Linked DNA regions of Homo sapiens. The protein of the gene in region 7 purifies or fractionates together with the protein of the main gene of each other region. This does not show direct contact. Each region holds a gene or a part of one and is shown on either strand. Other genes may lie near its edges.

Evidence for each region.
Region 1: the proteins of SCN2A (region 7) and PLXNA4 purify together in Homo sapiens (affinity purification with mass spectrometry; one large-scale study listed by BioGRID and IntAct). This does not show direct contact.
Region 2: the proteins of SCN2A (region 7) and XPR1 purify together in Homo sapiens (affinity purification with mass spectrometry; one large-scale study listed by BioGRID and IntAct). This does not show direct contact.
Region 3: the proteins of SCN2A (region 7) and CDC42BPA purify together in Homo sapiens (affinity purification with mass spectrometry, with the first as the bait; one large-scale study listed by BioGRID). This does not show direct contact.
Region 4: the proteins of SCN2A (region 7) and PCDHGB6 purify together in Homo sapiens (affinity purification with mass spectrometry; one large-scale study listed by BioGRID and IntAct). This does not show direct contact.
Region 5: the proteins of SCN2A (region 7) and ABCC8 purify together in Homo sapiens (affinity purification with mass spectrometry; one large-scale study listed by BioGRID and IntAct). This does not show direct contact.
Region 6: the proteins of SCN2A (region 7) and PTPN14 purify together in Homo sapiens (affinity purification with mass spectrometry; one large-scale study listed by BioGRID and IntAct). This does not show direct contact.

The regions. Positions count from the first base shown.
Region 1 is NC_000007.14:132,569,971-132,573,470, forward strand, and holds part of PLXNA4 (plexin-A4 isoform 1 precursor), read right to left. Parts: intron 1-3,500. UniProt on the Homo sapiens protein: Coreceptor for SEMA3A. Necessary for signaling by class 3 semaphorins and subsequent remodeling of the cytoskeleton. Plays a role in axon guidance in the developing nervous system. Class 3 semaphorins bind to a complex composed of a neuropilin and a plexin.
Region 2 is NC_000001.11:180,635,022-180,638,521, reverse strand, and holds part of XPR1 (solute carrier family 53 member 1), read right to left. Parts: intron 1-3,500. UniProt on the Homo sapiens protein: Inorganic ion transporter that mediates phosphate ion export across plasma membrane.
Region 3 is NC_000001.11:227,031,993-227,035,492, forward strand, and holds part of CDC42BPA (serine/threonine-protein kinase MRCK alpha), read right to left. Parts: coding exon 3,479-3,500; intron 2,803-3,478; coding exon 2,663-2,802; intron 1,424-2,662; coding exon 1,342-1,423; intron 1-1,341. UniProt on the Homo sapiens protein: Serine/threonine-protein kinase which is an important downstream effector of CDC42 and plays a role in the regulation of cytoskeleton reorganization and cell migration. Regulates actin cytoskeletal reorganization via phosphorylation of PPP1R12C and MYL9/MLC2.
Region 4 is NC_000005.10:141,414,521-141,418,020, reverse strand, and holds part of PCDHGB6 (protocadherin gamma-B6 isoform 1 precursor), read right to left. Parts: coding exon of another isoform or gene 2,293-3,500; exon of another isoform or gene 570-2,292; intron 345-569; exon of another isoform or gene 162-344; coding exon of another isoform or gene 1-161. Other genes in the region: PCDHGB7 (protocadherin gamma-B7 isoform 1 precursor), read right to left, coding at 1-161; PCDHGA10 (protocadherin gamma-A10 isoform 1 precursor), read right to left, coding at 2,410-3,500. UniProt on the Homo sapiens protein: Potential calcium-dependent cell-adhesion protein. May be involved in the establishment and maintenance of specific neuronal connections in the brain.
Region 5 is NC_000011.10:17,403,846-17,407,345, reverse strand, and holds part of ABCC8 (ATP-binding cassette sub-family C member 8), read left to right. Parts: intron 1-136; exon of another isoform or gene 137-216; coding exon 217-458; intron 459-557; coding exon 558-724; intron 725-1,782; coding exon 1,783-1,852; intron 1,853-2,676; coding exon 2,677-2,834; intron 2,835-3,500. UniProt on the Homo sapiens protein: Regulator subunit of pancreatic ATP-sensitive potassium channel (KATP), playing a major role in the regulation of insulin release.
Region 6 is NC_000001.11:214,348,200-214,350,401, forward strand, and holds the end of PTPN14 (tyrosine-protein phosphatase non-receptor type 14), read right to left. Parts: 3' UTR 501-2,202; downstream 1-500. UniProt on the Homo sapiens protein: Protein tyrosine phosphatase which may play a role in the regulation of lymphangiogenesis, cell-cell adhesion, cell-matrix adhesion, cell migration, cell growth and also regulates TGF-beta gene expression, thereby modulating epithelial-mesenchymal transition.
Region 7 is NC_000002.12:165,238,181-165,242,213, reverse strand, and holds the start of SCN2A (sodium channel protein type 2 subunit alpha), read right to left. Parts: upstream 2,801-4,033; 5' UTR 2,574-2,800; intron 1,155-2,573; exon of another isoform or gene 1,100-1,154; intron 1-1,099. UniProt on the Homo sapiens protein: Mediates the voltage-dependent sodium ion permeability of excitable membranes.

The DNA.
Region 1 (3,500 bases), on a different chromosome or scaffold from region 7:
CAGTAGTCATAGCAAAGTGCTTGTCTTAGTCCAGTGTTTCTCAGTGGATTCCAGGTCCACTACACAGTTTATATACTTTTGTGATTTCACAATCCATGTGAGTGTATTAAAGGCTCTGAGAAGTCCTGCAGCAAGGAGTATCTTTAGCTTTGCTTTACACCCAGGGTTTTGCAAACTTACTTGACTGCGGAAACTTTTTTGCATGTAATGCCTATTGACTCCCCCGCAGAATATACTTTGGGAAACTCTAGTCTATTTTAAGTATTACTTTCAGGAAAGCAGGCCTGAGATGGAGAGGAAGAAAACGAACTCCAACTGACTCTAGCAACATTAGCTGACATTCCAGGCAGGCTGCTTCAGTTGCACATCCTGACGTCTGCTACTGTCTCCTCTCTCACTCTCTAACCCCGCCACAAGAACGGAAGCAATCCACCAGCTATGCCTTGCTTACTTCTTTCCTCTTGGCCTCTGGGTCAAAGCCAAGGAATGATTGGTTCACCTTCTAGTTTGAGCCTCCACACTACCAAAAGGGAAATCCAGCTGTGCTCATTCGAGAAGAGTTCAGTGAGTATGTCAGATAAGGAACTGATCTTGAGCGAAGACCAGGAAAGCCTTTCAACTGCCATGGTTTTCCTGTCCTAAATTTCCAGCGACCTCTTCCTCCACTGCTTCTCTCCTCATACTTCATAATGAAAATACTCTACCCTGTAAGACCTCGGGAATTGATTCAGCGAGGCTGTGTTCAGCGCATTGACTGCGGAGACTATCCTCTTAGCTAGTGATCTGTTTTGTGTTGGAGTGACAAAACATCCCAAAATCCAATTTGCTGTTGCGAATCCTGGTTCATGGAGGAAACACCATAGAGGGGGAGGGGAAGATCCAAGCTTAGAAGGAAAAGAGAGGATGCCTGAGATCTCTCCAACACCTGTTGGTTTCAGTTTGCACAGGACTTTACCTCCCAATGTTTTATCCACTCATTCCTACTGCTGCCTCAGAGGGGAGGTGATGAAATTCCACGTGCACCCCTTCTAGCCACCTCAAGTTGGACAGAACTTTTACTCACCTCACAGTGTAGAGAAGTCAAAGAAATAATGCATGGAATAAAAGTTTGTCTTTTGGAGAAAAAGAAAAAAAAAAAGGCAAGTAACCAAAGTGCCTCACTTGTGGCTTTTTCCTAAAATGTTCAGACCAGAGGGACTGAGGTTAGCCCTGGCTTTGGAGTGGGACAGAACCCAACCAGGCCCATGGGCTCCTTCAGGGATTCACACCCACACCTTTTTGCATCAGGATGTAATTCCTAATGCCTTGCCTTAGCCTGCACCATCTCAGGTCTGAATTATTTTCTTCATGCAAATGGGGACCTATCAAAATTCCTCTAAGTGCTACAGGATGGCTATCCCCTGACATGGTCCGTTGGCACCAACATGCGATGAGTCTCTGCTGCAACCACCATAGGATCCAGGCACCCAGCACCGCATGATGTCCCTAGGCACTGATTTCTTCCCTGCTTCTGGATCCTGAAGTCAGAAACTCTAGGAGTAATAAATGAATGAATGAACAAGTGTCAAGTACCTACCGTGAGTGGTGTAATGGTAAGAATCTTTGCCCAAGAGTGAAAAAACCATCCATCCCTTAGCAACCTGGCGCCTTGGACATCTCACCTAAACTCTCTTCTCAGCCTTAGCTTCTATGCTATCAAAATGGGAATAAACAATACCTACCTTGCACAGCTATTTTAAAGATGAAATGAGGAAGTGTTGTTTCCACAATACTAGCAATTTGAAGCAGTCACCAGGGAGAATTAGACTCCTATCAGAATTGGAGCCTCATAGAGTCTAAAGTAAAGATGGGAACTTCACTCATTCATTCATTTACTCATTTTTTCCTGGGAGAAAATGGGAATTGCCAAATGAGGTGACAGTCACCCTCAGGACCTGAGCATTCTGCTAGAATGATCCATGCAATTTTATAACCTACCAACAGCCAAGGAGAAGACTCATCCCCCTTGATGAATGGGGAAATCGAGGCTCAGTGAATAAATACATTTGCCTGGCATCACAGAGGTAGTGCAAGAGACTAGGGACCAGATATTCTAAACTTCCTCCCAAGCACTCACCCATAAACCTCCCAAGGGGGCAGCAGTACAGTGAGCACATATATTCTAAGGAGGAAACCAGCACAGTGATGAGGAGAAAGGTCAGATTGCTCACAAGTGAGACTTGGCTCCATCACTAAGTGGCTGTGTGATCTGGGACAAAGTCTTTAACCTCCTGCATCTCAGTTTCCTCCTGGAGGAAATAGGGACCGTAATAGCCTATCTGGGTTGTTATGAGGCAAACTACTTAAATGGTATCTAAACCAAATGAGTGCTCAATAAATATTGGCCACCATCATCATTAATTATCATCTTCCATTCCATTGTTTTTACAAGAACTGAAGCCAGTACTAACATCCTCACAGCCTCTTCCTTTGGGAGGCTGATGCCACAGGACCGGACAAGTGTGTGGGGGCATACACAGACTCACATAGGGACTCAGGAAACTCTTCTTCCAGGCTGCTCCATGCCATGCAGGGAAGCAGCCTCCTCCTTCAGGAACAAGGCCTGGGCTCTTGTTCCAGGGGAATCAGGACCCCTGCCTGCCTTTCGTTTTAAAATCCATCTCTTACCACTCAGCAGCAGAGCCCCCTTCAGTCTCCCTGTGGGCTCCACCTTCCTACCGCAACTTGAATGGTACAGCCTGGGCAGTGAGGACAACATGAAAGAAGAAAGAAAAAGTCTGTGCAGCTAGAGGGGATCAGGTGGGAGTCTGGGGAGGGAGCAGTGGAGCTTGCAGCTTTTAAAGAGACAGTGTCCTGTCCACAGGGCCCTGTGTGGACCAAGCATAGCTCGATAGAGCCTATAGGCCAATTACCCTAATCATGTGCATCTCCCAAACAGCCATTTATTAGTGAGACGTCTTTTTAAAATGCCGCTTTTAAATATAAATAACACTTAATCATCCAGCTGTCGTTAAATTCATGTTATATTGATTTCTTGGAGTGCCGCAAATTTGAGGGCGAATGGGCTGGCGGATGTGCGCACAAAGCCAAGAGGTAGATTAGCAAGTGGTGGGGGCAGAGAAGTGGGGGTTGGAGGAAAAGGAAGGGAGGTGTCAAGGGAGGGAAATGAACCTACTCAATAGCCCAGGGTCTGAGCCAGTTTCACATTGGGTAGCACTGGACACAAATAAGAAGAGAGGAGACGCTGGCACATCTGTTGCATAGTCTAATGAGAGCCAAGATCATGGTCGTGTTTTCTGTATTGCTGCCGCCCCCTTGTAACCCACCACAGAGCCGCTCCAACAGGTCTCTGATGTGCATTGTCTGCGTATGCCTTCTCTAGGTGAGGATGGGGAGAAGCAGCTAAGAAATGCCCCCTAGCTGGCTAGGAGGAGAGAGATCCACAGCGATTTCTCTGCATCAAAGCCTGATGATAACTATGAATCAAGAGTGGTTAATGA
Region 2 (3,500 bases), on a different chromosome or scaffold from region 7:
TTCTTTTAGCATTTACTAGATAAGGAAAGACCTGAAAAGGCAAATACACTGGGCAAGAACCCTGGTGAAGTCTGACACTCTCTCATTCCCAAAGGCCACCTCAATACCAGGCAACCCACAAACCAGCTGTGGTTAATCTGTACAAGTTGGGCAAAGTCTTCCAAACTTTTATTATGTCAAATCCCTATTTAAAAAAAGTTTTATTATGTATCTCCAATATATGCATATTTATTTATTAATTATACCCATCTGTATCTGTGTACAATGTAAAACAAAATTGTTTAAAATAGAAGTTTTAAAAAGATGACACAAGGATGAAATAATTTCTACCTTTCATTTATGAACAGTACAAAAATATTTTTGATCTAAGAAATTATCAATAACAATGCTTTGAGAGAACATAACTGAAAAGTTTCATTTTTTTAATCTTCATTAAAAAAACAAAAAAGTTTTTTAAATAAATAAAACCTTCATTTAACATTTTATGATACAGTGTTTCAAAGGTCCAGTTCAAAGTTCAGGATTCATTTGATTTTGAAACTTAATTAATGGCTATAAACTGAAAAAACAGACCTTACAAAGGCAGAATACTCATAATATATACACTTACAGTCAAGTTCATTGTGACTGACAGTAGATGTAAAACCTTACTTCAAAGAGTTAGCTTAGGCCAGGAGTGGTGGCTCATGCCTGTAATCCCAGCACTTTGGGAGGCTGAGGCAGGCGGATCACGTGAGAACAGTAGTTCGAGACCAGCCTGGCCAACATGGTGAAGCCCTGTCTCTACTAAAAATACAAAAATTAGCTGGATGTAGTTGCGCGCGCCTGTAATGCCAGCTACTTGGGAAGCTGAGGCACAAGAATGGCTTGAACCTGGGAGACGGAGGTTGTAGTGAGCTGAGATCAGGCCACTGCACTCCAGCCTGGGTGACAGAGCAAGACTCCGTCTCAGGAAAAAGAAAAAAGAATTAGCTTAATAATTTTTAAATTTTTGGCGAACTTCTTGTCAAGTCTACTAAAGTGTTATTGTTTTTATCTGTAATTTGGCTGCCAAAAAGCTAGTACTAGAAGGAGAAACCTCAGCTCTGTTGTCATTTTCTTGTTGTTCACTTGTGCTTGCATTATTGGTATTACTGTTATGGAATCTTTACAGGAGTCTTTTTAAGACATGTCTATTTCCTAGCGGTTGATTTGGCTAAAACTAGATAATAATTTATAGATTCATTTAATTATGCACCCATAACTGGATTAATGATTATCTGCCAAAGCGAACAAACAAGTGAAAAAGCCACTGGCAATCCTTCTGTTTTCTTCAGTATACCTGTGCATGACCTCCTTAGCAGGGGTACTGCATCAATCCATTTATTAAATACTAGTAAAATTGTATTTCTTCCTTTTCTTATGCATAAAAATAAGTAAAATTAACAGTTCTGTCTTCCCTTACTTTTCCTTTTTTTTTTTTTTTTTTTTTGAGATGAAGTCTTACTCTGTTGCCAGGCTGGAGTGCAGTGGCACAATCTCAGCTCACTGCAACCTCCGCCTCCCCGGTTCAATCGATTCTCCTGCCTCAGTCTCCCGCGTAGGTGGGACTACAGGCATGCACCACCACACTCAGCTAATTTTTGTATTTTTAGTAGAGATGGGGTTTCACCATGTTGGCCAGAATGGTCTCAATCTCTTGACCTCAAGTGATCCGCCTGCCTCGGCCTCCCAAAGTGCTGGGATTACAGGCGTGAGCCACCGTGTCCAGCCCCCTTACTTTTCTAATACTGTCTTCTCTTTACTCCATGGGAGTTTTGGGCACACTCCTTTGGGGCCTACAACTCAAATATACCTGAAATCCTTACCCAGCACAACTCAATCATTCTCTTAAATGCTTCCCAGATTAGGACTGAATTTGAAGCTAGGACTAAGTTTCCATGGTCACCCCAGGTCAAATAAGATTCTTAGGTTCTTATGATCTGGGCCTTCACCCAAAAGCTGATCCAAAACCAACCTTCAGGATAAACGGACAAGTATAATCTTTCCAGCATACTCACGCTGACACACTTAAAGATGATAAAGAATAGTTATAGCTTCCTGTCTTTACAACATTCATTCACTCACTTAAGAAACATTTGTAAATGCCAACCATCTCATTGACGCAATCATTTACAAGTGTTATCTTAAACACACTATACTATACTTTGATTTACAAAAGTGTCTGAAAGAAAAAGTGTGGTTTGTGCCCCATCGGGTGGCCAAACTGGATATTTCAAACAAGTTGCAGCAACTCAAGTTAAACCTACCTAATCAACATAATACCTTTGGGAAACTGAAGCCTGTAACACAAGTGTTCCCATGGGAGAGTTCTATAAATGAAAATCGTTAATAATGTTATGGTAATGTCTCCTTATACCTGAATATAATGGAAGTGTAGTTCATGCAGAACCTCTCCTTTCCAAAATCCTGCAATAAAAAATTAATTCATCGTCATCCCTTTTTAAGTTAAATAAGAGAGTTTCACTGGGTTAACATCTTATTCACAGATCAAAATATCAAAAATTTTTGAAAGGATATTATTAATTTTAAAGGATGCTATTAATACTCCTGTTAAGTTCTGTCCTCTTCATATACCAAACATAATAAAACCATTTAAAAACACAGAATTTTAGAGCTGGATGAGTCCTTAAATAATACGGGGGTTGTGAGCTTAGAAATCAAGTCCAATTCTCTAACATTAAAGAAACTCAGATGTTTCTTAGCTAAAAGAAGAAATGGTTTCATCAGGATCACACAGTGTGACCGGACTCTCAATGCTTACACATGCTCAAGAGACATATACACATATTCCTAAACAAGTGGCTTAACCCCTCTGGACCTTAGTTTCCTTGCCTGGAAAAACAAGGTAGATAATCTTTAAATTCCCTTTTAGCTCTAAAATCCTGTAATTTAGAAACCTTGTTATTTTATTACAAAACAAAGGATACACTGAAAAAAATCATTCCTGGGTCCTGAGAAACCAAAGAAACACAAGGCCCTAGGGAAAGTCAGCAGCCTAAGGCACCAAATATATTTGCTTCTTCTGCTAATATTCTGCAAAATATTAACATGGTCATATTAGTCTATTTGGTTGAAACCAGTCTCAGTTAATTTTGATTAATCAATTGCAGAGCTTTAAAATATATAGTCACTAATTCTAAATTTTAAAAAAGCTCTTACAAAGATTTACCGGTGTTCTATTTTACATGTCAAAATTTATACTCAAACAGATTACTGGAAACAGGAATAGTCTCGGCTTGTTTGTGTTTATTCTTTGCACAAACTACTTACAAATGGATTGAAGAGATTTTCTTTATATGGCTTCTCCATGTTGGTCTGTTATTTTATGCTTTATTATTCTGCCTATGAAGACTGAATCTATGAACACCACAACTTATTTTTAAATTAAAAAACATAATAATTTTCAGGATATTGATGGGTTATTATCATTAATAATTTTATCAGTTCAAGGAATAAAA
Region 3 (3,500 bases), on a different chromosome or scaffold from region 7:
AAGTCTGGGATCTTGTGCCCATGCTCTTAAGCGCCACACCATACTGACTTGTGACTTGTTTTAAGGTCAGAAGTGCTCAGAAATATATTCTCTGTTACTTCACAACAATAACTCGCATTATCATTAAGATTTGACCATTTAAATTAATATTTAAATGAAGGTTTATCATTATACAAACAACACTATCAGAGCAGTTTTAAATTTTACCTATATGAATTCCTTATCATAAGTAAAGAATTCCTTATTAAGTAGCAGTGACAATAAACTCACACTATGAAAATCAGTTATAGATAAGTGGGCCTCTGTAGGCTCCCTTGGTGGCTGGGAGGAAAATAAATAGTTGTCAGTCTGGGAACTAAGAGACTAAGTATAATCTTTGCCTGACCTTCCTTAGATACAAGATTCATAGACAAATATAGGGAGATAGGCATAACAATTGGGCAGTAGTTTTTTTTTTTAACCTCTATTGTCTTAATTTACCCACTCAAGATTGCATCGTGGCAAGGGCCTCCAAAGACGCCTACCAACAAGTCCTCCTAAGGAATTCCATTCTTCTCATCAAGAGGTGGAGTCTATTTCCCCTCCCCTTAAATCTGGGCTGACCTCATGACTTGCTTTGACCAACAGAATGCAGAAGGGTTATTATACCTGTTTTGGGCCTAGTCCTCAAAGGGCCTGGCAGCTTATTTTGCTCTCTTAGAAGCCAGCCACTGGGAGCTCAGCCAGCCTACCTGACGACCAGAGACCACATGGAGGGAGTTCACAAAGAGGAGAACTGAGATCACCCAGCTAACAGCCAGCACCCAGATGTAAGAGCAAGGTCATTAGATGTTCTGGTCCCAAATGAGCTGAATGCAGTCACATCAGTGACACTAGCGGACACCACAAGAACTGTACAGCTGGTCCACAGAATAGTGAAAAATAGTAAATCACTGTTGGTTTAAGCTACTAAGTTTTGGAATGGCTGTTACAAAGCAGTAAGTAACAAACGCATTAATTTTTCAAGACAGACATTTTTATTTTTTTAAAAACTTGAGAAACCTCACACTTATCTAATTTTCCATGTGGTAGTATTTATTTAAAAATTGAATTGGAACTAAAAAATATTATCTACCAGGAAGCATATTTTATAAGCCATATATTGATGCTTTCTCCAGGTCTTTCACTAATTAAATACTTAGCACCAATTTTCTATACCTTCAAGTACTGGATGATATGGAATATATAAAAGAATATAAGATTTGGTTTTACTTATAGTGAATTTATGATTTATATAGGGAGGCAAAATATACTCATTAAAAACACATAATTCAGTGATCAAATTACAGCATACACACTTACCCTAAATATACAGGGTATATCTTTCCGACTTGCATGGATAACATCAGAAGCCAAGACTGAACTCACAGAAAATTCTTCATCCCTGAACGAAAAGCAAAGCATTAAAAGTTACTATATGTGGCTATGTGTGTGTGGTTTGGGGTGTGTATCCAAATAACACATACCCAAAGCTTAACTGCACCAAACACCCAAATTTAATTTTTTAAAAAAATTAATTTTCCCCCATTGTAATTAATAGTGCCCCAAATAATTTATCAAGAATAACTTCCTAGTGGCACATTATACAAGAGCTAGAAATCATTGCTGGCTTACCCACAGTCACAAGGCCAGTTAAGTATACACGTAGAACTGGGATTTGAACCCTGGTAGGTCTCTGGAGCCTCCAGTGGACCCTCTTGCCTCCCATAATAAATCTTAAGTACCCTCAACCCAGCTCATGTTATATTTTATTGTTCCTTCAACATCTACAACGTATTTCCTCCACAATAATTTCTTGTGATTCCCTTAATTTTGTTGTTGGTACCATGACTCCCTTAGTCTTACAGGCTTGACACCTTAGTCCTATTTGTGATTCTTTTCCCTATCTATATTCAGTCCCTTAGTAGGTTCTATCAGATTTTTCTTGCCAATATTTCTTGCATCTATCCTGTCATGTTCCATATTTGTAGGGGAAGATAATGCGTTTGAGATGCCAATGTGAAGTGCCAATTTGAGTCACAGCTAGAAATTCCGGTTTTGAGCAATGGATGGATATATCTGAACTGGAGATACAAGTCTGGGAGTCATCAATGCAGAGGAGATGGCTGAAGCTGTGAGTAAATATGATCACTCAAGGATAGTGCCTGGAGTTAGGAGAAAAGGTAAAGGAGAGAGAACTAAGGAACACAGGAAGAATCTGAAAAATGAGACCAGAAGTGTTCAAGGGCTGTACTTACTTAAATGTTTACTGATTATGTTTTCCAGAAGCCTTTCTGATTTTTATTTTCTTTCCTCACATTGAAATTATACTCTAAGCCTTTAGGTGATGTGATAATATAAACTTCACATGGTAGGCCTCCATTACCCCATTTACACAGGTCTTTGGGACACCAACTTCTTTTTCCTTAACTCCTAGCCCCTCACACTCAACACACATACCAACCTGTCCTATAAATACACCTTACTTCCTATTTTCAATTCTGTTTCTATAGCAATATTAGCAAATTAGAAAATACGAAATTAGTTCATTTAAATAAACCATGGCAACACAATTTTTGAAAATCAGAAACTTTAAAATTCCTATGTTGCAATGATACAAATAATTTTACCTTCAAACTCTTACCTCATGTCAATCACTTGACTAATGACAACACTGGGCTGAGATGCTTTTCCTTCAGCAATATCGTACAGAAAGAGTTTGAAGTCACACACTATAGCCAGTGCTCTCTGCCACCCTTTCTTCACTCCAGCTGGCTTAGGAATCTTAGTTTTGTTTTAGACAGACAAACAGCCAAAACAACTCAAATGAAAATATCCCTTAAATTACATATGTAATTGCATGGTGAAGACCTACAGATAATGTACACGTTTTATAAGTCTGCCATTCTGGTTGGTAAAGTAGCAGATGAGACACATATCATTAAGCTATGAGAAAATGTGAGAACACATTCTTCAAATACAGAATGACTTTTTATTCTGAGAAACATTTTAATGGTACCATTTTAACTTTCACTCATATTTCATTAAAATAACACTCATGGGTTTCTTTCTAAATAGCATAAAAGTCAAACTTGGTGTAAGATGAAGTTCAGCTTACATTGTAAATACTACCCAAGATAACAAGACTATGCCTTAATAGCTCATAATTCATAACCATATGCCACCTCTCTTGCAAGAGCAGGGGCCACAAACTCCTTTATGAAGATTTCATCACAAGATAGGAACAATATGGAAAAACTTGAGACATTTTATAACTTATTTCCATGTAAAAGCTAGGTTTTTGTTTGCAAATCATTATTCTAGATGAAATAAAATTATTAGATGAATTTTATTCATTTAATTTTCCATCAAGAACTATCCTCTTAAACTAACTGGATTTGATTTTAATTCATTAATAAATCTTAAAGGATTAATCTAAACCCAACTTAATCATACTTACCCTGACATGACCTTCATATGCT
Region 4 (3,500 bases), on a different chromosome or scaffold from region 7:
AGATCCTTAGCGAGGTTCCCCACCACCGAGCCCTTGGCCAGCTCCTCCGGAATCGAGTAGCGGATCGGCTCACACAGCGTGGGGTAGAACAAAGGCAGCAGCAAAGGAAATAGTACCTGCCGCGGGCCGGCCCGGCGCCTCTGCGCGCAGCTCCCTCCCATCGTTCGCTCGGGTTCTCGCTGGGTCCCCGCTTTTCCAGTTGGAGAAAGTGCACTCTACCGCGCTAAAAGAGCATTCGGCCCAGGACAGGAGGAGTCCCGGGTCTCGGAGCTGGCAATCTGGTGTGCTGGGCAAGGTCTGCGCAGCCGGGAGCCTCTGTGTGGGAGCTGGTTTTCTTTTCTGTTGTTGGCTGCGCAGGGAATCCCAGGCTAGAGGCTGAGGGATCCCCGGCGTCAGCGCTTGCTCTGCACTGGCCGACGGCGGCGCCCAGAGGCTCTGTGTGGGACTGCAACTTGACTTTTCTCTACCTCTTTCAAGGAATTTTTTTTAAACTACGAGTTGACAGCCAAAATATTTTAATCTTTTTCCTCAGTGATTCCTTTTACATCAGGAAATATATTTCCACTTGGTCATAACTATCATATCTTTTTATTTACTGAATTTACATATATCTTGAATAAATGAATATTTTTTCTTCAAAATTTAAAAAGGCACAAAATAATATAGCATGAAGGTTTATAGGTCTCCTATCCCACGGCCCATTGCTATCCAATTCCTCCATCCAGAGGCAGTCATTCTTGTTCCTTTTAAGAGTAATTATCTATGAAGCTGGAAGTACTGAAGATAAGCAACAAATTTTTTTGTCTTCAATTCTAGCCTATATTCACCCAGAAAGTAATAATTCCTTATTTCATACTTAAGTACTGGAATGCAACCATTGCCCTAGTCATTACCATCATCCAGGGTGTCCTGTATTGCTTTTAAATAATTATAATCAAAATATTTTCTCACAATAGCTACAATGTCAAGAGCAGTTTTTTTTAAAAAAAAAACCTGTATTTTTCAAAATAATAGAATTATTTGAGATGAATGCACAATAATTTTGACTCTCATTAACACAAATATAAAATAATAGTTTCAATGGTTTAATAGTTAATAACTATGACCCTAAAGAGTGTGCTTTCCTTCCACAGACCTATCATTCAACAAATGTTGACTGACCTGAAAAAAATCATGGAATTATAAGGGTCTTGAGAAACTTCGGAATGCTTTTTGACTTTATACTACCACATTTAGTAGAATACTAGTAATAAAATTAAGAGATCTACCTAATACGTCACTATTTTCATTGAACTAAATGAACTCATCAGTACCTCCAATGATCCTTTGTTTATATAATTTCCCTTCGTTGCATATATTCTTTTCTTTTTTACAGCTGTGGTTGGTGTTTATATTCTGATCTGCAGAAATGGCATTTCTTTCTTGACTCTAAGTTTATTTTGCCTCTCAATTTCAGAGTTTTCAGAGTTTCAGGTGTTTGCCTCCTTATACATTAAAGAGCCACTGAAATAGCTTTGTCATATATCTCTTGCTCCTGTTCTCGGGAACATGTACAAATTTATCTGTCTTCCCAACCCATATTTACTTTCAGCCTTAGTCACTAGAAAATTTAACAAAAAAGACAAAAGCAGAATCCCAAATATTCTTAATTTCACCCTCTATAGCCTCCTCAGGATCCCTATTGAGCAATGAAAGTTAAATTAAAATGCTATATCTTCCACATAGCAGTGTGAAATTAGAGAATTGTATGCAAAAAGGATACTGCAGTGTTATCAGTTATAAATAGGGCTGGAAAAATCTAAGCATACATTGTTATAAATAAATTGTTAATTCAATATTAATGAAAAACTTAGTATATTCAACTGCAACTATCACCACAAAGTATAGATTGAAAAATATATAAAATGTAGTTTGAAAAAGGCCTATTGCCCTTCTCCTTGGGAAGAACTGCATTGAGTATTCTTGGATTTGGGTTGTGTTTCCAGAGGTGATTTCTTTCTGATACTTACCTATTCTTACCAGACCTGCCTTCAGAACAAGAGGGTTGCTTAAGGGGCTGGAGTTTCAATATGTGACCACCCAGGAGGAAATATAAATTGACAGGCACTTCTGTATGGAAGTCTGTCTTAGGAATTGTCAATATTGTACTCAACAACACTATAAACTACAAGGTTCTGCAAAGCTAATCATAACAAAGCCTTATGATATATAGGCCTTGATTGAGACTAGGTGAATTTTACCAGAAAGTAAAAAAAAAAAAAAAAAAAAAAAAAAAAAAAACCTTAATAAACATCAAATTCTACTCATCAGTGTTTTAGCATTTACACTTTCCACCATCATGCCGCAAACTTCAAAGTAAAAACCAATCTTTTTTTTTTTAACAAAAGTAAAAATGAAAATAAAACTCACTGGAACCAATGGGGTATCCTCTATAGGAAACTTCGAATCATCTAACAAAGACAAAGGATCGTTTTTCTCACAGCTCTCCTGGCTGATGAGCGTGTCCGCATAATTGGGCTGGGGGAAGATCAGGTGACTCTTTCGCGAGTCCGCGGTGAGAGAGACCTCGTGGGAATAGGTCTGCAGGAAAGCCCGAACCCCGTCCACGCCCACAAAGTGCGAGCCGGACACACCTGTCAAGCCGCCTCCTGAAGCCTGCAGCAGGCGTGACTTGTGCCAGCGCCGCAGCCTGTGCGCCAGCAGCACGATGACGAAGGCCAGGAAGACGCAGGAGACCGCGGCCACCGCTACCACCAGGTACAGAGTGAGGTCTGAGGTTTCAGAGTTAGCTGGAGACTCGAAGCTGCCGAGGTCCGCCAGGACTTGGGGGATGCTGTCGGCCACGGCCACGGTGAGCGTGACAGTGGCGGAGAGAGGGGGCTGGCCGTGGTCCTGGACGGCCACTACGAGGCTTTGCTTGAGCGCGTCTCTGTCCAGCAGGGCTCGCGCCGTGCGCACCTCGCCCGTGTGCTCCCCCACCGCGAAGAGTCCCGGCTCGCTGGCCTTGAGCAGACGGTAGGACAGCCAGGCGTTCTGGCCGGAGTCTCTGTCCACCGCCACCACCTTGGTCACCAGGTAGCCGGGCTCTGCGGAGCGGGGCGCCAGCTCCACGCCTGTGGAACCGTCTGTGGGGAGGGCGGGGTACAGGATCTCGGGCGCATTGTCGTTCTGGTCCAGCACAAACAGGCTCAACGACACGTTGCTGCTGAGTGGAGGATCCCCGCTGTCGCTGGCTGTCACCTGCATCTGTAGCTCATGAAACTGCTCATAGTCGAAGGATCTGAGTGCATACAGGACGCCAGTGTCTGAGTTGATGGATATGTATGAGGACAGAGGTACCCCCTGGATGGTGTCTTCAGCCAGGGAGTAAATAATCTGGGCATTCTCTTTGCTGTCCGGGTCCAGCGCTGTCACTGAGAAGATGGAGGCACCCCTGGCGTTGTTCTCTGGGATATAGGTAAAGTAGGAGACTTGAGAGAAGGTAGGTGGGTTGTCATTGA
Region 5 (3,500 bases), on a different chromosome or scaffold from region 7:
AATGGGACTGGGAGTGAAATTATGGCCTGAGGTCTGATCAGCCACAGAGAGGCTAAGGTTTGGGGTTCTGGGTGTGGTGCAGTAGTGTGCCTTTGATTAAATGGCTTCCCTCTGTGTGCCCCCGTTGTCCCCTCAGTAAGTGGGGATAAAATGCCCTGATTCACCCTCAGAGGGATGGAAATGTGTAGCCACAGAGTGGGTTCTTGCGGCCTGCAGAGGAGGCAGCTGAGAGCGAGGAGGATGACAACCTGTCGTCCATGCTGCACCAGCGTGCTGAGATCCCATGGCGAGCCTGCGCCAAGTACCTGTCCTCCGCCGGCATCCTGCTCCTGTCGTTGCTGGTCTTCTCACAGCTGCTCAAGCACATGGTCCTGGTGGCCATCGACTACTGGCTGGCCAAGTGGACCGACAGCGCCCTGACCCTGACCCCTGCAGCCAGGAACTGCTCCCTCAGCCAGGTGTGACTGGCGGCCCATGGCAGAGGTTGGGAGTGGGGATGGGGGAAGGGCTGAGCCCATGGGCACCCTGGAACTCCAAATCACTCTCTGCCTGTGAAGGAGTGCACCCTCGACCAGACTGTCTATGCCATGGTGTTCACGGTGCTCTGCAGCCTGGGCATTGTGCTGTGCCTCGTCACGTCTGTCACTGTGGAGTGGACAGGGCTGAAGGTGGCCAAGAGACTGCACCGCAGCCTGCTAAACCGGATCATCCTAGCCCCCATGAGGTACCCGTCTCCCCTGGCCAGGCTGGGACTGTGAGCAAGTCACTGTTCTCTGAGCCTTAGTCTTCCCATCTATAAAATGGGGATATACAACCTGTCACAAGCTTGTGGGGGTGACTCAAGGAGACAGTGTGTGTAAAAGTGCCCTCCTTGTGCAAGAAGCAGGGAGAAACTGGCATTTACTCAGCCAGATACTGTGATAGGCATTGTGTGTGGTTAGCTCATTTAATTGTTACCATGGCCCTTTAAAGTGAGCGTCTGCACATCCAAGTAAAGATTGTTTTCTCCTCCCTAAGTGGGTGTAATTTGCCCATCCCCACCCATGAGTTCAGCTCCCTGCCCTCCCCTCACTCTCTCTCCCTCAGCCAGCCTCAGGTTTTGACACTGGGGGAACAGGTAGCTGTTCTATTAATAATTTCCTGTAATGGGATGGATAAAAATCTCAAAGGCCACTTGATGTCAAAGAGGTTTAAAGTTGTCCCTGCCCAATTGGTTGGCCAACTTGGCTTAAAAACACAACAGGCAAACAGATTTTCTGGCCCCTTGTCGAGGCTAGACCTCACAATCTAACTGCACTTTTTACTTTCCAGCCTCATGAGTTTTCTGTGGCCCACAGATATGGCCTCCAAGTTTATTTACTTTTACTCTCTATTTGCCCCAGCTCTGTAGTTCTGAAACTCCCTGGTTGGGGTTGGGCTGACTCTGGGTCAGCCAGCCGGCAGGCTGTCCCCAGGGCCCTGTTCCTCTTGGCAGGTTGTCCCTCTGGAGAGGACTCTGTGTCCCAGGAGGACAGCTGCTGAGTCAGGCCGAGCCGGCAGCTGAGAAAGGCGGCAGTCGTCAGATGGGCTTGAGAAACTGAAAGGCTAACGAAAGGCCAGCGCCCCTTTGGGCAGCTGCAGGAATTCACGGGGATACAGGCCAGATGTCTACAAATTGGCAGAGGATGCCAGACCCATGAATGACTCCAGAGACACTTACATGAAATAATTAACTATCTCATTCAGTAAACAGGAAGTAAATCAATGGACAAATGAGTAACTCTTCCTCTGGCTGCCTCTTAGGTTTTTTGAGACCACGCCCCTTGGGAGCATCCTGAACAGATTTTCATCTGACTGTAACACCATCGACCAGGTACAGAGGACCGTGCCACACTATCCCCCCTTCCAGAGACACCTCGGACCCCTGGGGGCTTCTCCTGTCTGAGGCTGGGTTCCCCAGATCAGGTGATCACAGCCCTCTGGGAAGAAGCCAGTGTCCCCGATCCGATTATAATGCTGCTTCAGGGCTGGGGCCTCCCTCGTGGGAGCCTCACAGTAAGGCTGAGGGAAACCAGATCCCTTTAGCTTCCACCTGAGATCCCACTGGCTTTCTCTAGTAAAGTTCCAGCATATTCTGAACCAAGGTGGCTGATTGTATGGAGAATATTCATTTTGATTCAGCCTGTGTTCTTTATTTACCATTGTACCAGATGGTGTGAAAACAAAATCTTGATTCCTACCTCAGGGAGTTTACCTTGTAGCTGGAGAGATGAGATACGTGCCTATAATAAAGGGAGAGCAAGGCCGGGCTCAGTGGCTCACTCCTGTAACCCCAGCACTTTGGGAGGCGGAGGCAGGCGGATCACTTGAGGCCAGGTGTTCAAGACCAGCCTGATGGCCAACATGATGAAACCCCTTCTCTATTAAAAATACAAAAATTAGCCAGGTGTGGTGGCAGGTGCCTGTAATCCCAACTACTTGGGAAGCTGAGGCAGGAGAATCATTTGAACCCAAGGGGCAGAGGCTGCCGTGAACCGAGATTACGCTGCTGCACTCAAGTCTGGGCAACAGTGAGACTCAGTCTCAAAAAAATAAAGGATCAAAAAATAAAGTGAGAGCAAAACATGGCGGCCAGTAGCACTCTAAACACAGTCAATACCAAAATTCACCTCACTCTCTCCCCCTCGTCTCCCTCAGCACATCCCATCCACGCTGGAGTGCCTGAGCCGCTCCACCCTGCTCTGTGTCTCAGCCCTGGCCGTCATCTCCTATGTCACACCTGTGTTCCTCGTGGCCCTCTTGCCCCTGGCCATCGTGTGCTACTTCATCCAGAAGTACTTCCGGGTGGCGTCCAGGTGATGGCCTCAGGGGTGAGGGGTGGGAGGTGCTTTGCAATGTGCAGTTTGGTGTACTTGCTAGACTCATCGTTATGAGAGTAATAGGGTCGTGTTCCCTCCAAAAAATAAAAACAAAAAACAGAAATGAAGGAAATAGAAATATCCACATCTTATTCCACCGCCCTAATATAATAGTCTGCCAACACACGCACACACTGAGGTTGACATCTGAATTATTTCCTTGGGCGATATGGTCAGGACTGGAATTGCTAGGTCATGATAAATGCACATTTTATGCCCTTCATTCATTTTGCCAACATGCTTCCCAGGAGGGTTGCATCATTCTAGTGGTCAGGCTGATTGCTGATGCATGAAATCGGCGGGCACCTGATTCAAGCAGTGTTATGATAACACCTCCCAGCCCACGTGAGTCCAGAGTGTAGCTGTAAGCCTTGACTTGAGGGAGCCTCTCACAGCCATTCTCATGGATCACATTTGCCCTCATGAGCTTTGGATCCATGCACGCCTCTTTCCTCCTCAAAATTTTCTAAGAATGTTCTCTAGGGAGTTCTTTCTGGGAGTGATTCTCCCAGATTCATAGAAACTCATAGATTCAAAAAATTGTAGGAAAAAATTTAAAGAACGTCTAGGCCAGTGTTTCTCAAACTGCCAATTACAGCCCAT
Region 6 (2,202 bases), on a different chromosome or scaffold from region 7:
GCATCTACCCACATATGAGGGGTTCACCGTGAATGTGCTATGGTGGTTACTGGCTGAAAGTCTGGGACAGGACAGCCACCTTTAAACCTGGACACAAGTTGAGCTGTTATAAAGCTGAAAGGCAAAAGCAAGAATTTAAATTTTCTACAGCAGCCTGGTTGGTGCCTGCCTTTTCCACATCAACAGTTTGGTACCTGAGTAAATGACAGTGAAGGAGGAGTGAGTAGGGGCTTGGAGCTTAACGAGGCTTATTGCTGCATTTGTGAGAAAGACCCATTTCTATGTATTCTTCACTCCACTTGCCTAGTGATCACCCCTTTCAGGTTTCTTCTAACAGTGACAACCTTGGGAATTTCAAACTAAATCTTCAGTATGATAAGGTTATGCAGGACTAAAAACTGGGTAGCAATAAATGGGCTTTAGAAAACAAAGCATGCAGGTTTTCCCAGGCACTTTCAACTAATGCAAACATATACAGTACAGAAAAGAGAAGATGTAACTTTTCTCTGAAAAAAAGGTTTATTGCATATGGAAATCAATAGATATCTTTTACAAAAAAAGGTTAGAATAAAGATCTCACATTTGTAAAGGCACATATGAAACATTTTATAGCAAGCACAAGGGCAGTGAGAACATCAACAAGGTCCAATATCTAAATAAGACTTTATAAAAACAGATAGGAAACAGTGCAAAAAATACTGTCAAAGTCAGTTCTATACACCTCATAACTGTGTATACAACTGGCAAGCATAAGCTTATTTACTGATATAAAATAGCACATAGAATAGCATGCATAGTTTTATTTTAGGCTTTTCATATTATTAAATTGATAGGGAGTCTATACCAAAGTACAGTTGACATGAATAGTGATAAAAATCACTCCCCAGCTTAGGGAATGTCCTATAAACATCTCACCCCTCCCTCTGCTTACAACTACAGTTTGGTAGTAAGGAGACTGGGCTTCCATCTTGCAAGGTGGCAAGCGGCCACCACAGGGGGCGAATGTGCTCTCAGGATCCCAAGTCCCAACCTGGAATGCATTTCTTACGGCAACAACATAAGAGATGGTGATTAAATGTCTGGGTCAGCCCACAAAAGCCAACCAGATCTGGCTATCACAGCCCTCCATTTGGGCTGTGGTGGAGGTCAGTGGGCTTCTATGGGCTGACGCAAGAACCTTAAGAACAAACCGGTTTCTAAGTTGGGGACTTGTCTGTACATCGTTTCAAAATGAAACCTAATAAATGTCATTTGTTTTGAATGATACCAAAATTCACAACATTTTGTGAAACAAAGATCAAGGAAAGCATCAAAATACTGAAGTAGGGAGCACAAGCCTAGTCCAGTGAAACAAACTAGATTAGCTTGTTACTTGATGTAACACAAGTTACATAAGGTTACACATTTATTAGTAATTTGCATATTTAAACCTTTTTTTCCACTGAAGTATCCTCAAGCACATTAATTAGCTATTGAAGGAACAAAGGACATACATAGGAACTCATCTCTGATGAAGAGTAGCTTTATGTCAGAAAGGAGAAGGCTAATGAATTTTTAAGATTCCAAACAGTGGCAAGAAAGTTCAAAGGAAATTGCAGTAAAATTGTACAATGTTCAAGTTGAAAAAAAAAATGGCTCTGAATTACAGCATTCAGTTCTATGCTCAAGGTATGTATTAGCTAACACTGCAGTTGTCAGAGGTGGGAGGCCCCTGAGAAATGCTGAGAATGCCAGGCACCCCAGTTCTGAGAGCCACCCTAGCTAAACTCAAAGCAGCATTCTTGAGATTTTAGCAAAAGGCTCCGCCCCAAGCCACAAAAAGATCCCAATCCAATCTTTTCAGCTTTATCCTCTAAAACCTTTTGTCAGATGAGATAGCATTTGTGTTTCCCAGGAGGAGAAGGTTGGGGAAGAAAATGAAGATAGCTTACATACAGATTTTGGATGACCCGCTAATCTTTCCCCTTCCTAGGTAAGTGAAAACAGATAAAATGTTTCTGGGCAGCCCAAAGGTTTACCACCTGTTTCACTAGAATGGCCAGTCTGTGTAAAGAGGCTATAATGACGAAAGCATTTTCCCTGCAGGGAGAAGCTAGAAACAAATGGGTCTTCCTATACATCAGTCTGCCAAATGCAGCCTCTCTCAATCTATATAAGTTCACCTCGAAATACATATTAAGTACTGCTGTCATCATTGTTTTA
Region 7 (4,033 bases):
TGCATGCAGATCTATACATTCAGCCTTAACCACTAATCTGATACATGGATATAACATGTTCAGCTCCTTATAAAACACCCCAGTGTATGAGTATGTGTCAGTATGTCAAATGCATAACACCAAAAGCCAAATTCATTATCCTTACTTTTACTGCCCCAGGGGAAAAAAAATAACAACTGCAACAACAACACCGACAACAAAAGCTTCAAACAGATTGGGTTATTTACCTTTCTCTACAGTTTCCCTATACGATGCCTATAGTTCTCCATTTTCTTGTATTTACTTGCCTCACCTATGTACCTGGAATAAGCAACTTTCTGTTTTTCTTTATTTATATCCAACTCACTCTTAAAGATCTAATTTAACTGTCACATCCTCCTAAAATCTTTTCCTCTGAGCCCCCCATGGACAGAAATTAACATTATTGTTTTGTTCTGAATCCCAGGATGTAACATGGTGCCTGGCACAAGATAGGTGCTGATATTCCTGTCCCATTCACTTTCTCATCTTTCTTCATTCCTTATTTTGAGATATAGTGGTATCTGCACATGTATATTTGCATGTTAACCTCCCTGAGGTAAACTCCTTGACTAATTATTTCTTTATCTCTACCATGGACACTTGGTTGGTACGTGGTATTCCACAAATATATGTAGACATGACACATTTTAATCCCTTTCTTTTCTCAAGATATTGAAGAAGTAGGGTAAAGCCTGTGCCTAGTAAGTGAACAAAGGAGGAAAGGCTTGGACATGAGATGATATTCTTATAGTTGTCAATAGATTAACCTATATGTACAATCTTTTCTATTAGGTAGGAGGGAAAGCCATGTGGCCATCCACATCATTCATGAGCATAGGGTAGAAGAGTATACACCACCTAATAATGAAAAAGGCATACTAAGAAACAGAGTTTCCATAGTTGTCATTCAGTTTTCTTGGATGCTTTGACAAGAAACCTAAGAAAATTGAGCACTGCATATAATATGCCATTGAGCAACAGTATACTGAAAGAAACTCTATTTTACAGAATATAACCAAACACACACACACATGCACACACACACACACACACACACGCACAGTGAATATCATCATACCTGGTCTATGCCATCCTGATATGTTCACACTAGAGGTGAATTGTGTTACTGCTATGGAAGATGTGGAACTGTCAATCACTGTTCTAGCCTTGCCTTATTGTAATTTAGTACGTGACTCTGGGAAATCCACCTTATCTCTCAATTACAATTGCTTTTCTTTAAATGATAATGGGGATAAATGGTTAAATATCTGTAATTCTAAAAATCTCCATGTATATGGAGCCATGTAGAACTACAAACTCTATAGATTCCACACATTTAAAAAACATGTTTTTTTCATGGTTTGTCCAAACCATTTTATAAAATCATTCCCCATAGCTTTCACAACCTCTGACATGGCAAAACTACCTCTTTACAGGAAAACAATGACTGAGATAAAAACATCCTGATGCACCTCCACCGCCTGCCACCTCCACCATCACACACACACACACACACACACACACACACACACAGCTCTTTCCACAGGAGAAAGAAGTGAGGCATTTAAAAACAATCTTACAAAACTATTTTTAAAATATTTGTAAAATCTCTTTAAATTTCTCTAAATGAAAATCAGTGGTTTTTAAATATAGGATTTCTATATGTCTTTATTCCTGTTATTCTAATAATAATCAAGCAAGGATTTAAGGGAAATCACGAGAAGCAGCAGAGAGAAGCAAGGCTGTTGCATGCAACTTCCACCTCCTGAGTCATTCCACTCTTTAACACAGATAATGTCACATGACCTAAAATAATTTAAAATGTGAGCACCTTCTATAATATCAACTATTTAAAATGGCCACGGTTCTATTATCCCAAATCCAATAAAATACAGAAAAAATCAATTTTCATGGCAATTAATTTGTGTTCAGCATACTCCTCACATCCATACTGGGGGAGGAGGGAGGGTCTATAGTCTCATTCCAAGTCTATTAAACACATTACATAAATCTTGATTCATGTGGGAGAAATGACTTACGTATTATTTCTAAGAGGTAAAAATAAAGACATAAACAATCTGTACCATCATAGCCAGCAGAAATCGTTCAAAAGGCCTTTGGACTCAGAATATTGGCTTGCCTCTGAGGCTGCAATCAGAAGGCTCAGCCCTGAGCTTTGGCAGAGCCACTGCCATGTTAATCTGCTTCATTATATCTCTACAATTTGTTCACTGCATTAAGGAGCAGTATTTCCCTTGTGAAAGGAAAACCCATCCTTCACTTTGAAAGCTTTACCTTTAAAAGGTAAACAAATACAGCCAGAGACAGAGACCAACAGCTAGAAAGCCAAAGAAATAATAAAACACGGTATGTCATAGTCAGAGCTCATTTCAGCCTAGGAAGATTTTAAATTGCACAACAGCTAGAATTAGAGCTTTTGAATCTCTTAGATCTGAATACAAGCTAACAAAGCACACATCTTATATTAAATGTCATTCTTAACATAGATAACAATCCGTGGATAAGTCAAAAATAGAATCATGCTGGCTTACCTGAAATAAAGAAAAATGTAAATCATAACACAGAATCCACGTATGTGTTGAATATAACAGTCTCCAATGCAATTCTTCAGAATTTTTACTGGAGTAGAAAGTAAAATCTCACATGTGCTCTATCCTCATTAAAGAAGAAAAAAACAAGAAAGGATGACCACAGCATCCTCCCTCCTTTGCCTTAGCTTTCTGTTCTGACAGTCATTCGATGGTACCCAATGTCTGTTAGAAAACAGCATGCTAAATTAGAAAAATAAATAAATAAAGGCAGCATCTTACATGACAGCTCCATCTCCTGGTCAAAAGTGGAACCATCTTAATTCACGTTCCTTTGGCTATGTAGCAGTCAGCACATAAAATTAAATGATGTACAGCCCATAATTCCACTCTATTTGAAATCAACTACTTTAATTAACTGTAATTTAAACATTTAAGAAGAATTATAGTATGAATTTTTAGAATTATAATTCTATTTTGGGGATTCAAATTTCTTTACATTATGTTTAAACTAAATGGAAGCTTTTCCCATCATTGAAAACTTAAGATTTATTTAACTTTATATACCATCTGAAAAAGTAATATGTATCTCCTATAAAACAATTTTAGATGTCAAGCTTATTGATAATGAACATCACATCTCTTTGTGGAGAAGTATAAGTTTTTGTCACTAGAGAAGTTAACACATAACACTTGTGTTGCTATTGTTTGGAGGAATGTTGAAAGGTTAAAGATAAGGCAGGAAAATTAAATGACTTAAAGGCAAACTTGAAAAATCTTTAGTTAATCTAATCTAACTACAAAAATACAGACGACAAGTTACATGCAACATGAAATTTGATAATTGTAGTAGTATACTATAGTGTGTAGTTACATCTTCTTAGAGAGATAAGAGAAAATTAAATTGTCAAAAGAATCCATTTGGTAAATGACACCATTTATAGAATCAAAGTTTTACTGAGCATATGATGTTCTCAATATATGTTTGTTTAATTAATTATTCTTCTTATGAACAGTTGTGAAGGCCAGGATCATTTTTTTAAAATTTGAAGTAAAAGGATAGGCATTTTTTTTCTCCCACTTTTTTACAACACCATTTTAATTTGGGGCCAAATCGATCTTTAATTTCCTATTGCAGTAACGCTGTCCATGGTGCTGAGAACCAATTTTAGAACTCATGGTGAGTTCTAGGTCTTAAACGGGTCTGAAATACTGTCTTTGTCAGATTTGATATAAAATTTACCATTAAAAGTCCCCAGATCAGCCAGAATAATTGATAGTATCTAATATAAAAATAGTTAAGTAATTTTTTTATCCACAAAATATGTATATACACATGTCCATCAGAAGCCAAAATGCTGATAAATACATTTAATAAAATACATGATTGCAAGCTACACTTTCTTTGGATTCATAATATTTTATTTTCTGTGTGCTAAAGTTATACTGAATAGATTGCTTTA